Homo sapiens: one gene and its partners. The protein of the gene in region 1 purifies or fractionates together with the protein of each later gene. This does not show direct contact. Each region holds a gene or a part of one and is shown in the gene's direction. Other genes may lie near its edges.

Evidence for each region.
Region 2: the proteins of SPATA33 (region 1) and PPP3CA purify together in Homo sapiens (affinity purification with mass spectrometry; one large-scale study listed by BioGRID and IntAct). This does not show direct contact.
Region 3: the proteins of SPATA33 (region 1) and PPP3CB purify together in Homo sapiens (affinity purification with mass spectrometry; one large-scale study listed by BioGRID and IntAct). This does not show direct contact.

The regions. Positions count from the first base shown.
Region 1 is NC_000016.10:89,664,289-89,667,943, forward strand, and holds part of SPATA33 (spermatogenesis-associated protein 33), read left to right. Parts: intron 1-3,655. UniProt on the Homo sapiens protein: Plays an important role in sperm motility and male fertility. Required for sperm midpiece flexibility and for the localization of sperm calcineurin to the mitochondria. Promotes mitophagy as well as acts as an autophagy mediator in male germline cells.
Region 2 is NC_000004.12:101,061,003-101,064,657, reverse strand, and holds part of PPP3CA (protein phosphatase 3 catalytic subunit alpha), read left to right. Parts: intron 1-1,300; coding exon 1,301-1,426; intron 1,427-3,496; coding exon 3,497-3,571; intron 3,572-3,655. UniProt on the Homo sapiens protein: Calcium-dependent, calmodulin-stimulated protein phosphatase which plays an essential role in the transduction of intracellular Ca(2+)-mediated signals. Many of the substrates contain a PxIxIT motif and/or a LxVP motif.
Region 3 is NC_000010.11:73,485,912-73,489,566, reverse strand, and holds part of PPP3CB (serine/threonine-protein phosphatase 2B catalytic subunit beta isoform), read left to right. Parts: intron 1-3,655. UniProt on the Homo sapiens protein: Calcium-dependent, calmodulin-stimulated protein phosphatase which plays an essential role in the transduction of intracellular Ca(2+)-mediated signals.

The DNA.
Region 1 (3,655 bases):
GGACACGTTGCTGTGGAGGCACACATCTTCCTGGAAGGCGGTTTGGTAACAAGGTGGCAGGACTCAAGACAGCCCACACGATCCCTGCCCCTGGGAAACAGCCATGTGTAACCCTCCCCTCGAGTGTGGGTGGAATGAGGAAGAGGGAGGTGTGTCTCTCCTGCGATTAGCTCACTCATCCATTGAGTTTGACGTCATCAAAATGCGAGATGATCCTGGATGGGCCCGACCTGATCAGGGAAGCCAGACAGTAAAAGTGTCAGAGGCTCTTTAGGGCCCGACCTGATCAGGGAAGCCAGACAGTAAAAGTGTCAGAGGCTCTTTAGGGCCCGACCTGATCAGGGAAGCCAGACAGTAAAAGTGTCAGAGGCTCTTTAGGGCCCGACCTGATCAGGGAAGCCAGACAGTAAAAGTGTCAGAGGCTTTTTAGGGCAGCGAGAAAACGGGAACTTCATTCCTTGAACCGGGAATAAATTCTGCCTCCAACCAGAATGGGCTTAGAAGAGGGTCCTCCAGCTCCTCATGAGAATGCAGTGCAGCCGGCCCCTGGAATTCAGCCTGCGTCCCAGCCACGCTGCACCTGCACCCCTGACGACGAATGCAGTAAGATGATAAGTGGATGTGCTGGTTTCAGCCCTGAAGTTGGTGGTGATTTGTTGTGCAGCAATAGAAGTACACACAATATGTACCAAGAACCTTGAGAAGAGTCACATTTATTCTTTCTGTTTTGTTTCTGAGATGGTCTCACCCAGGCTGGAGTGCAGTGGCACCATCTTGGCTCATTGCACTCTTGACGTTCTGGGCTCAAACGATTCTCCCACCTCAGCTCCCTGAGTAGCTGGGGCCACAGTGCACGCCACCACCCCCAGCTATTTTTTGTAGTTTTTGTAGAGATGCGGTTTTGTCATGTTGCCCAGGCTGGTCTCGAACTCCAGAGGCCAAGCAATCTGCCTGCTTCAGCCTCCCAAGGTGCTGGGATTACAGGCGTGAGCCACCGCACCTGGCCCAAGATTAATATTTCTTTTTTTTTTTGAGATGGAGTCTTGCTCTGTCGCCACCCAGGCTGGACTGCAATGGTGCATCTCTGCTCACTGCAAGCTCCGCCTCCCGGGTTCATGCCATTCTCCTGTCTCAGCCTCCCGCATAGCTGGGACTACAGGTGCCTGCCACCACGCCTGGCTAATTTTTTGTATTTTTTTTTTTTTTAAGTAGAGATGGGGTTTCACTATGTTAACCAGAATGGTCTTAATTTCCTGACCTCGTGATCCGCCCGCATCGGCCTCCCAAGGTGCTGGGATTACAGGCGTGAGCCACTGCGTCTGGCCTAATATTTCTAAATGAAGAAACTATACTTTGAGGAAGATGAAATAAGTCTTGTTTTAGACTAGAAAATTTCAATAGTGTAAATACGTTAACTTCTGTAAAATCAGTCAACACCAAGTCAAAACACAAAAGATCTTTTGGGAATATGAGCAGATTATTCAAAGGTTCATCTAAAGAATAAAAATGAGGCCAAGTGTAGTGATTCACGCCTGTAATCCCGGCACTTTGGAGGCCGAGGCAGGTGGATCACTTGAGGTCAGGAGTTCAAGACCAGCCTGGCCAACATGATGAAAGCCCATCTCTACTAAAAATACAAAAATTAGCTAGGCGTGGTGATGGGTGCCTGTAGTGCCAGCTACTTGGGGAGGCTGGGGCAGGAGAATCACTTGAACCTGGGAGGTAGAGGTTGTAGTGAGCCAAAATTGTGCCACTGCACTCCAGCCTGGGCGACAAGAGTGAGAATCCATCTCAAAATAAATAAATGAATAAAAATGAAAGCAGTAGGAAACATCTGGAAAACCAGAGGCATGAGGGGGTCGGGCCCTCTGATACTCAAGTAGGTTAGAGTAAAAAAAAGCCAGATATGGTGATGTGGGAATATATGGTCCCATAGGTGGGATCTGTGGTTCCAGCTACTCAGTGAGGTCCGAGGATCACTTGGGCCTGGGAGGTTAGGACTGTAGTTTGCTATGATCACATCCACGAATAGCCACTGCGCTCCTTCCTGGGCTACAGAGTGAGACCCTTCTCTAAAAATGGAAGAAAATGGCCGGCACAGTGGTTCATGGCTGCTGTAATCCCAGCGCTTTGGGAGGGTGAAGTGGGAGAATAACTTGAGCCTGAGAGTTCGAGACCAGCCTGGGCAACATGGCAAAACCGTGTCTCTACAAAAAATTTCAAAATTAGGTGGGTGTGGTGGTGTGTAGGGTCCAGCCCCACAGGGTCGGTGGGTTTTCTCCCCATGTGCGGAGATGAGAGAGCGTAGAAATAAAGACACAAGGCAAAGAGATAAAAGACAGCTGGGCCCGGGGGACCACTACCACCAAGCCGTGGAGACCGGTAGTGGCCCCAAATGCCAGGCTGCACTGATATTTATTGGATACAAGACAAAGGGGCAGGGTTAGGAGTGTGAGCCATCTCCAATGATAGGTGAGGTCATGTGGGTCATGTGTCCACTGGACAGGGGGCCCTTCCCTGCCTGGCAGCCAAGGCAGAGAGAGAGGAGACAGAGAGACAGCTTACGCCGTTATTTCAGCATATCAGAGACTTTTAGTACTTTCACTAATTTGCTACTGCTATCTAAAAGGCAGAGCCAGGTGTACAGGATGGAACATGAAGGTGGACTAGGAGCGTGACCACTGAAGCACAGCATCACAGGGAGACGATTAGGCCTCTGGATAACTGCGGGCAAGCCTGACTGATGTCAGGCCCTCCACAAGAGGTGGAGGAGCAGAGTTTTCTCTAAACTCCCCTGGGGAAAGGGAGACTCCCTTTCCTGGTCTGCTAAGTAGTGGGTGTTTTTCCTTGACACTGACGCTACTGCTAGACCATGGTCTGCTTGGCAACGGGCGTCCTACCAGACGCTGGCGTTACCACTAGACCAAGGAGCCCTCTGGTGGCCCTGTCTGGGCATAACAAAAGGCTCACACTCTTGTCTTCTGGTCACTTCTCACCATGTCCCCCCAGCTCCTGTCTCTGTATGACCTGGTTTTTCCTAGGTTATGATTGTAGAGCGAGGATTATTATAATATTGGAATAAAGAGTAATTGCTACAAATTAATTAATGATATTCATATATAATCATGTCTGTGATCTAGATCTAGTATAACTATTCTTATTTTATATATTTTATTACACTGGAACAGCTCGTGCCCTCGGTCTCTTGCCTCGGCACCTGGGTGACTTGCCGCCCACAGTGGTGCGTGCTGGTGGTCCCAGCTACTTGGAAGGCTGAAGTGGGAGGATCATTTGAGCCCAGGAAGTTGAGGCTTCAGTGAGCCATGATCATGCCACAGCATTTCAGCCTGGGCCACAGACCTTCAAGATCCTGTCTCAAAAAGAAAAAGGGATATCGCTCAGTGCTTAGTGCAGCTGTGGGTCATTCGGCAGCTGACACAGATGAGGCTATGTAACGCAGCACTGCAGGCAGAGGGGGAGGCCAAGGCCTGAATACCCCGTCTGACTAGCCTTAGGCAGGCGACTTGGCCTCTCTGCCTCCCCCATCTGGTTAGCCTTGGGCAGTCGAGTTGGCCTCTGTGTCTCCCCTGTTTGACTAGCCTTGGGCAGATGGCTTGGCTTGTCTGTACCTCAGTTTTGTCTGAAATATGGGTTG
Region 2 (3,655 bases), on another chromosome or scaffold:
AAAATAATTTGCTTGAAAAAGATTGTAAGGCAGATACCAAGATGTGTCTCCAGCTCCTGAGCATCCATTCTGAGTAAAAACAAAAAAGTAAAGAAATGATTACTTTTTCTGTATTTTCAACCCCATAACATAAGCAAGAAAAGATCATATGATATCATATAAAATCTGTTGGTTACTGTCTTCTAATGTAATACAAATTATGCCCTGAATAGATAATAAAAATGAAATCTTGCCAAAGCCTAAGAAGGTATGCTTGAGTATCATATTTAATATTTAAAAGGCTGTCATTCAGAAGCAGAATGACATTAAATATTAAATATGAAATGCATAGCAAAACCATGATCAGTGACTGGTAAAGGCAGGTTTAAATGCAACCTGAGAATTTCCTGCAACTTCAAATTGTCTATCCATAGAATAGGTGACCTCATTAAAACAGGTGACTTTTCCTTTATTGAAAGTACTCACAGAGACATGAAGCATGCAGATTTGTCTTCCTGAGTCATGGATGGACATCTTTTTCAGAAATCAAGGATAGAGTCAGATAGAAGCACATTATTTTATGTGGGATTCAATCCAAACATTTTATTTTATTAAGTCAAGAAAGCAGTCTACTATAGGGTAACTATAGTTAACGATAATAGATTATAATTTCAAATAGCTGGAAGGAGAATATTGAATGTTCCAAATACAACTAAATGATAAATGTTTGATATGGTATTTAATGTATAGCTAATTACCCTGATCTGATTACTGTGCATTATATGTGTCAAAACATCACTATGCACCCCATAATTATGTACAATTATTATATTAATTTAAAAAATAAAGTAAAAATTAAAGCAATCTAACTTAAACTATTTTGTACAACTGTTGGGAGTTCTATTGAAGTTTTACTTTTTAAAAATAAATTCATTCAAATATTTGAGGAGATTATTATGTCAAACTTAGCTGTGCCACTTTTATTAGTGTCATCAGATATCAAATTTTAAGACCAAAGTATTCTTGGCTGAAAGGGGAGCTTGAATCAGTTCCTGACAGACATTGGATTAACTATTTTGTGTAAATATTTTCCAATTTGTTACACAATTACATATTAATTATTCATATATTGTGCAGTTATATATTACCCTGAGTAAGGTTTAAGTCCATAAGTTGTATAAGCATTCTGGGATGCCTAAGGTGTGAGCCTGGATGTTTTGGAACTTCAGTCAAATGGTTGAATTTTCTTGATGAGCTAAAGCCATACATAGAAGCAGAAATATGTTCTGTGTTCCTAACATCCTCTTTTGGTTATTTTTAGCTGCAGTATTGAAGTATGAGAACAATGTTATGAATATCAGGCAATTCAACTGTTCTCCTCATCCATACTGGCTTCCAAATTTCATGGATGTTTTTACTTGGTCCCTTCCATTTGTTGGGGAAAAAGGTATGTTGTGGAATCCTGAGATGTTCTTCTTAAAATAGTTTAGGAAGGAAGGAAAGGAGATTAAACACTCAGAAAGAGAAGAACTTTGGCCCAGCCAATAAAATTCACAAGTTGTACAATGAAAGATGTGATTTGGAAGTGGCAGTGTGTCACTCTGTATCCTATTAACAGGACACAATTGGTGAATGAGGGGGAAGCAAAAAAAAAAACAAAACACAGGAATATTTAGGAAATTTTTACAATCTTATTAGAATAATATAACGCTTTAAAAAATAATGGAAATACAGGTTTACCTGGTTTCAAGTAATGTCTACCCTTTTTCCTTACCCATTTGTACTATAATCCCAAAGGACTATTTAATTTTACAAATTATCTGCCAAATTAAAAGATTAGGATAGCCATGCTCTCCTTACATTTCTGATGTTAATAAATTATTGTACGATAGTGCTTAATGGCTACAATATTTTGAAGAACAACATGTACAACAGCAAAGTAGTTCATCAATAATGTAGGCATTAGCGCATTATAAGGTACAGAACAGGAGACAAATTTACATTTTAGAAAGTTATTTGTTAACTTTCTTCCTACCTTCCTTCTTTCCTCCTTTGTTTTGCTTTCATATGTTGACTTAAACCCCAACAAAAATTTTGGGGAAATGTCTGCACCAATTGTTTTTCATTCAGGAGGCCTAACAGTGATACACGGATTGATTCTCATGTATCTTCTCATACTTTCCATGAGAAGGTGAATGGGCATTGTAAGAAAAATAAATGTTCCTATAAGTATCAGAGTAATGATGTTCTATGAGGAGTATCAGAGAAAAGCTAAATATTTTTCTGAAACCCTAATGGTTGTTTTCCCTTTAAATGCCCTAAAATGATTAAACCAGTCAAGTTATGAGTTGTTGGCAAAGAAGCCTTCCCTTTGAATATCAAAATAATCAAAAGTAAATTTTTAATAATCTCTGATAAATATTCCCAATACTACTCCATATTGCAACTTTCTTGCACTGATCAAATTGGAGTAGTGTCATCTGTTGGCTTCGCTGGAAACAGAAGCAGTGTGGATGCTGACAACTATGGGGCACCTTTTGAACATCCTTTATTTGGGTTGTTTCTATTAATTATTAAAATTTGGGACATTTATTAGAAATTAACATATTAATCTATTGGTACACAAAATCCAGTTTTGATAATTAAACTGAAACTCTGGATCAGTGTTGGCTCTATTGAAGTTTGACTCTCTATCATTCATCTTCAATTCTAGAAGGACATTTTTTTAAATAGCATATTACTTTAAAAAGTAGCTCTCAAAGAAGCAGTAGACAGGCTTCTTTTCACATGCATGGTAGAATCCAATCTAATTTCAAAAAATATTAAATGTAAATAGCATGGTTTATAGTATAAAAATAATGCAGTACTAATTTCCTCTGTACAACACTTTTATGTAATCCTATTGTAATCTATTAAGTAAATTTCTGATTAAACTGCAACTGTTTAATTTTTTAAGCATTTTTGAAAATCAAATTTAATGATATTTCTGTCAATACATTTTTAAAATTAGTATTCTGAAAAATACTTCAAATATATTAGTTTATCAATCAACAGTTTGTATTAAACACAAAACCACATGCCTATAATGGCGTGAAGTTCTCTAGGTGATTAAAAATATAAGAAAAATCATCATTCTTAGTCCCTACTGAACAGAAGTTTGTAATCTGATCTAGATTAAGCCTTATCATTGTGTGACTAATAAAAATTCAAAAAAACTATTTTCTCTTTCATTGATTTGTAGTATATTCACATCCACATATTTGATTTGTCATTGTCTATTGACCTAGAGCTAGTAAATGTTACCATTAGATATCATAAGCATCAGCTAATAGTTTCATAAAGTCTGCATAGAATCACAAAGGCTGTCTTTTATGATCTGGATGTTTACTGAAACTGCTTCTATATACAAACTAAATAAGAAATGTTATTGCTAAGTTTGCTCATTAACAATGCCAGAGTAATAGTTAAGGTTATAACAGAAAACCCTGACTTTTCTTTCTTTGCTTTCTCTCTTTAGTGACTGAGATGCTGGTAAATGTCCTCAACATCTGCTCAGATGATGAACTAGGGTCAGAAGAAGATGGATTTGATGGTAAGAGGCTTGAGCCTTTGTGCTAATGCTATTTGCCAGATAATTACTTAGAGTCTCATTGCTAAATCTAAGAATAAATTTCTA
Region 3 (3,655 bases), on another chromosome or scaffold:
TTATCTGTAAAGTAGAGCTAATAAAATCTTATTATAGGGTTTTTGGAGAATTAATAGAGACCGTGCATATAAAGTAGGTACCACAGTTCCTGGCCTGGCACATGGTAAGTACTCAACCAATGGTAACCATCACCATTATTATTATTATTATTATTATTGAAGGTTTTAAAGTAGAATAGTGACCCAGTATCTTGTTTTTTGATGGCTAATTCTGGCCATATTGTGTGCAACAAATTATTGGAGGGCAAGAAGCTTAAAGCAGGTTGTCTAATTAGAAGATTAATGGAGTAGTCCAAGTGAGGGATGACCAAGGCATGAAAAACTAGATACGACACAAATTCCTACTAATATTAGAAGGTAAGTATATTGGATGAGTGATTGAGTATGGAAGTGAAATAGGTGAGCAACAGTTTTTTAGGAAACAATAATCAGAATAATTTTGCTTTAGGGCTAGATTAAATTGGGCAATTGTAGTTAGATGCAAAGATTGGAATGATATGTAAAAGACTGAGAATGGTTAAATTGAGAAGAACCTTGAAAATAAGATCCAAAGTTTTCTTTTTCTTTATTCTTTAGTCATTAAGAAACTACCCCAAGTTTTTGAGTAGGTTAATTTACTACTTTGTTCAGTCAAAGAGGAAGAAGAGATTTTTCTAGTAAATGATAAGAACTTGAACTAGTATTGCAACAGTGGAGATTTAAGAAAATTGAATTTGAAGAATCAATAGGACTTAGAGTTCAGAAAGAGAACAATGACATTAAGTGTGAGTGATAGAGAATGGTGATACCTTAACAGGTGTAAGCCAGGAAGGGGAGCCAATTTTGAGGGAAAGGTATATTTAAAAACCACCACAAATTAAAAGAGACCCAATGGATACCTTGAAATTTTGAAGACAATGCTGTTGGATTTATTGAATCTTTCCTTAAAGCATGTGGCCAATCCATACTTCTACTCCTGGCAAGCAAATGGTTATATCATTCTTCATGATGAGGCTTTTTTTTTTTTTTTTTTTTAACCCTCAAGACAGGATCTTGCTCTGTCACCCAGGCTGTAGTGCAGCGCCATGATCATAGCTCACTGCAGGTTCAAACTTCTGGGCTCAAGCGATCCCCCAACTCAGCCTCCCAAGTAGCTGGGACTACAGGCACACACCACCATGCCTGGCTAATTTTGTTTATTTTTTATGGAGACAGAGGTCTCACTATGTTGCCCAGATTGGTCTCAAATTCCTGGGCTCCAGTGACTGTCCTGCCTTGGCCTCCCAAAGTGCTGCAGTTACAGGTGTGAGCCACCACGCCCAGCCATGATCAGCCTTTTGATGTCTCCTTTTGTCAAAAGAAAATTGTCCTTGTGTTGGTATAAAGACATATGCTACAGGAGCAGCATTCTGAAGACTTCAATTTCAACTATGGCTCTACTTCTTACTAGTGAAACCCCTGGAGAAGCAACTTAATGTCTCTGAACCTGTTATCTATCATTTGTGAAATGGGAGATAAAACTTGCCTGACCCTAACCCCAGCACTTTGGGAGGTGGAGGCGGGCGGATCACTTGAGGTCATATGTTCGAGACCAGCCTGGCCAACATGGTGAAACCCCGTCTCTATTAAAAATATACTAATTAGCCGGGTGTGATGGTGGGCGCCTGTAATCCCAGCTACTCGAGAGGCTGAGGTAGGGAGAATCGCTTGAACCTGGGAGGCAGGGGTTGCCATGAGCTGAGATCTCACCATTGCACTCCAACTGGGGCAACAGAGCGAGACTCTGTGGAAAAAAAAAAAACAAAAACTTGCCTGACCAAACTCAAAGGATGTCCCTGGGAATCATGTAGGATTATGTATGTGAAAGTACTTGGTCAACTATGAATAAAACACTATAAATATATTGTCATTGCTACATAAATTAGTGTCGTTAAACAAGTATTTTGGAAACTATAATCATTAATTCTGTAAACATTTCTTAATACCTATGTTTTTCCTGTTTGTTTTTTTTTTTTTTTTTTTTGGTTTTGGTTTTTTTTTGAGATGGAGTCTCACTCTGTTGCCCTGGCTGGAGTACAGTGGCATGATCTCGGCTCACTGCAACCTCTGCCTCCCAGGTTCAAGCAACTCTCCTGCCTCAGCCTCCCAAGTAGCTGGGATTATAGGCATCTGCCACCACGCCCCGCTAATTTTTGTATTTTTAGTAGAGACGGGATTTCGCCATGTTGGCCAGGCTGTTCTCAAACTCCTGACCTCAAGCGATATACCCACCTTGACCTCCCAAAGTACTGGGATTACAGGCATGAGCCACTGCACCTGGCCAGTTCTTAAGTTTTAGATAGGTTTTGATAATGGTGGAACTTAGAATGGATAAGACTTGTGGGCCAGAAACTTGAGCCTATGATGACTAGTTTTCTTTTGAGAGAAAGTCTCACTCTCGCCCAGGCGGGAGTACAGTGGCCCAATCCCGGCTTACTACAACCTCTGCTTCCAAGGTTCAAGCAATTCTCGTGCCTCAGCCTCCCCAGTAGTTAGGATTATAGGAGCCCGACACCATGCCCAGCTAATTTTTGTATTTTTAGTACAGATGGGTTTCACCATGTTGGCCAGGCTGGTCTGAAACTCCTGACCTCAGGTAATCCACCCGCCTTGGCCTCCCAAAATGCTAGGATTACAGATTTAAGCCACGGCACCCAGCCTATGATTAGTTTAATAGATAGCAGGGACAAGGGTAAACTAGCCAGAAGGCATGAATCTCAAAGGAGGAGGCATTTTTTTTCCCTTAGTGGAGAGATGATGTTGGAAGTGCTAATGCGGAGCTAAGAGAATGCTGAAGCCTCCACTGAGATTAGTGGAATGCGGAAAAATGAGCACCATCCACTTTGAAAAAAGAATTTGATAAGTGTTGTCCTTCAGGAGACCCAAGATGTAATTAAACTAGAGAGATGAAGACAGTATTCTGTGTAGAGCTAAAGAAGAGAGAGGCCAAGCGCGGTGGCTCACGCCTGTAATCCCAGCACTTTGGGAGGCTGAGGTGGGTGGATCACCTGAGGTCAGGAGTTCAAGACCAGCCTGACCAACATGGAGAAACCCAGTCTCTACTAAAAATACAAAATTAGCCAGGCGTGGTGGTGCATGCCTGTAATCCCAGCTACTTGGGAGGCTGAGGCAGGAGAATCACTTGAACCTGGGAGGCAGACGTTGCGGTGAGCTGAGATTGCACCATCGCACGCCAGCCTGGGCAACAAGAGCAAAACTCCGTCTCAGAAGAAAAAAAAAAAAAAAAAAAAAACCAGTCTGGCCAACATAGTGAAACCCCATCTCTACTAAAACTACAAAAAATTGGCTGGGCGTGGTGGCTCACGCCTGTAATCCCAGCACTTTGGAAGGCCGAGGCAGGCGGATCACGAGGTTAAGGGTTCGAGTCCAGCCTGGCCAACATGGTGAAACCCCGTCTCTACTAAAAATACAAAGATTAGCCGGGCATGGTGGTGCACGCCTGTAATCCCAGCTGCTCAGGAGGCTGAGGCAGGAGAATCGCTTGAACCTGGGAGGCAGAGGTTGCAGTGAGCTCATGTTGCGCCACTGCATTCTAGCCTGGGCAACAGAGCAAGACTGCATCTGAAAAAAAAAAATACACACACACACACACACACACACACACACACACACACAC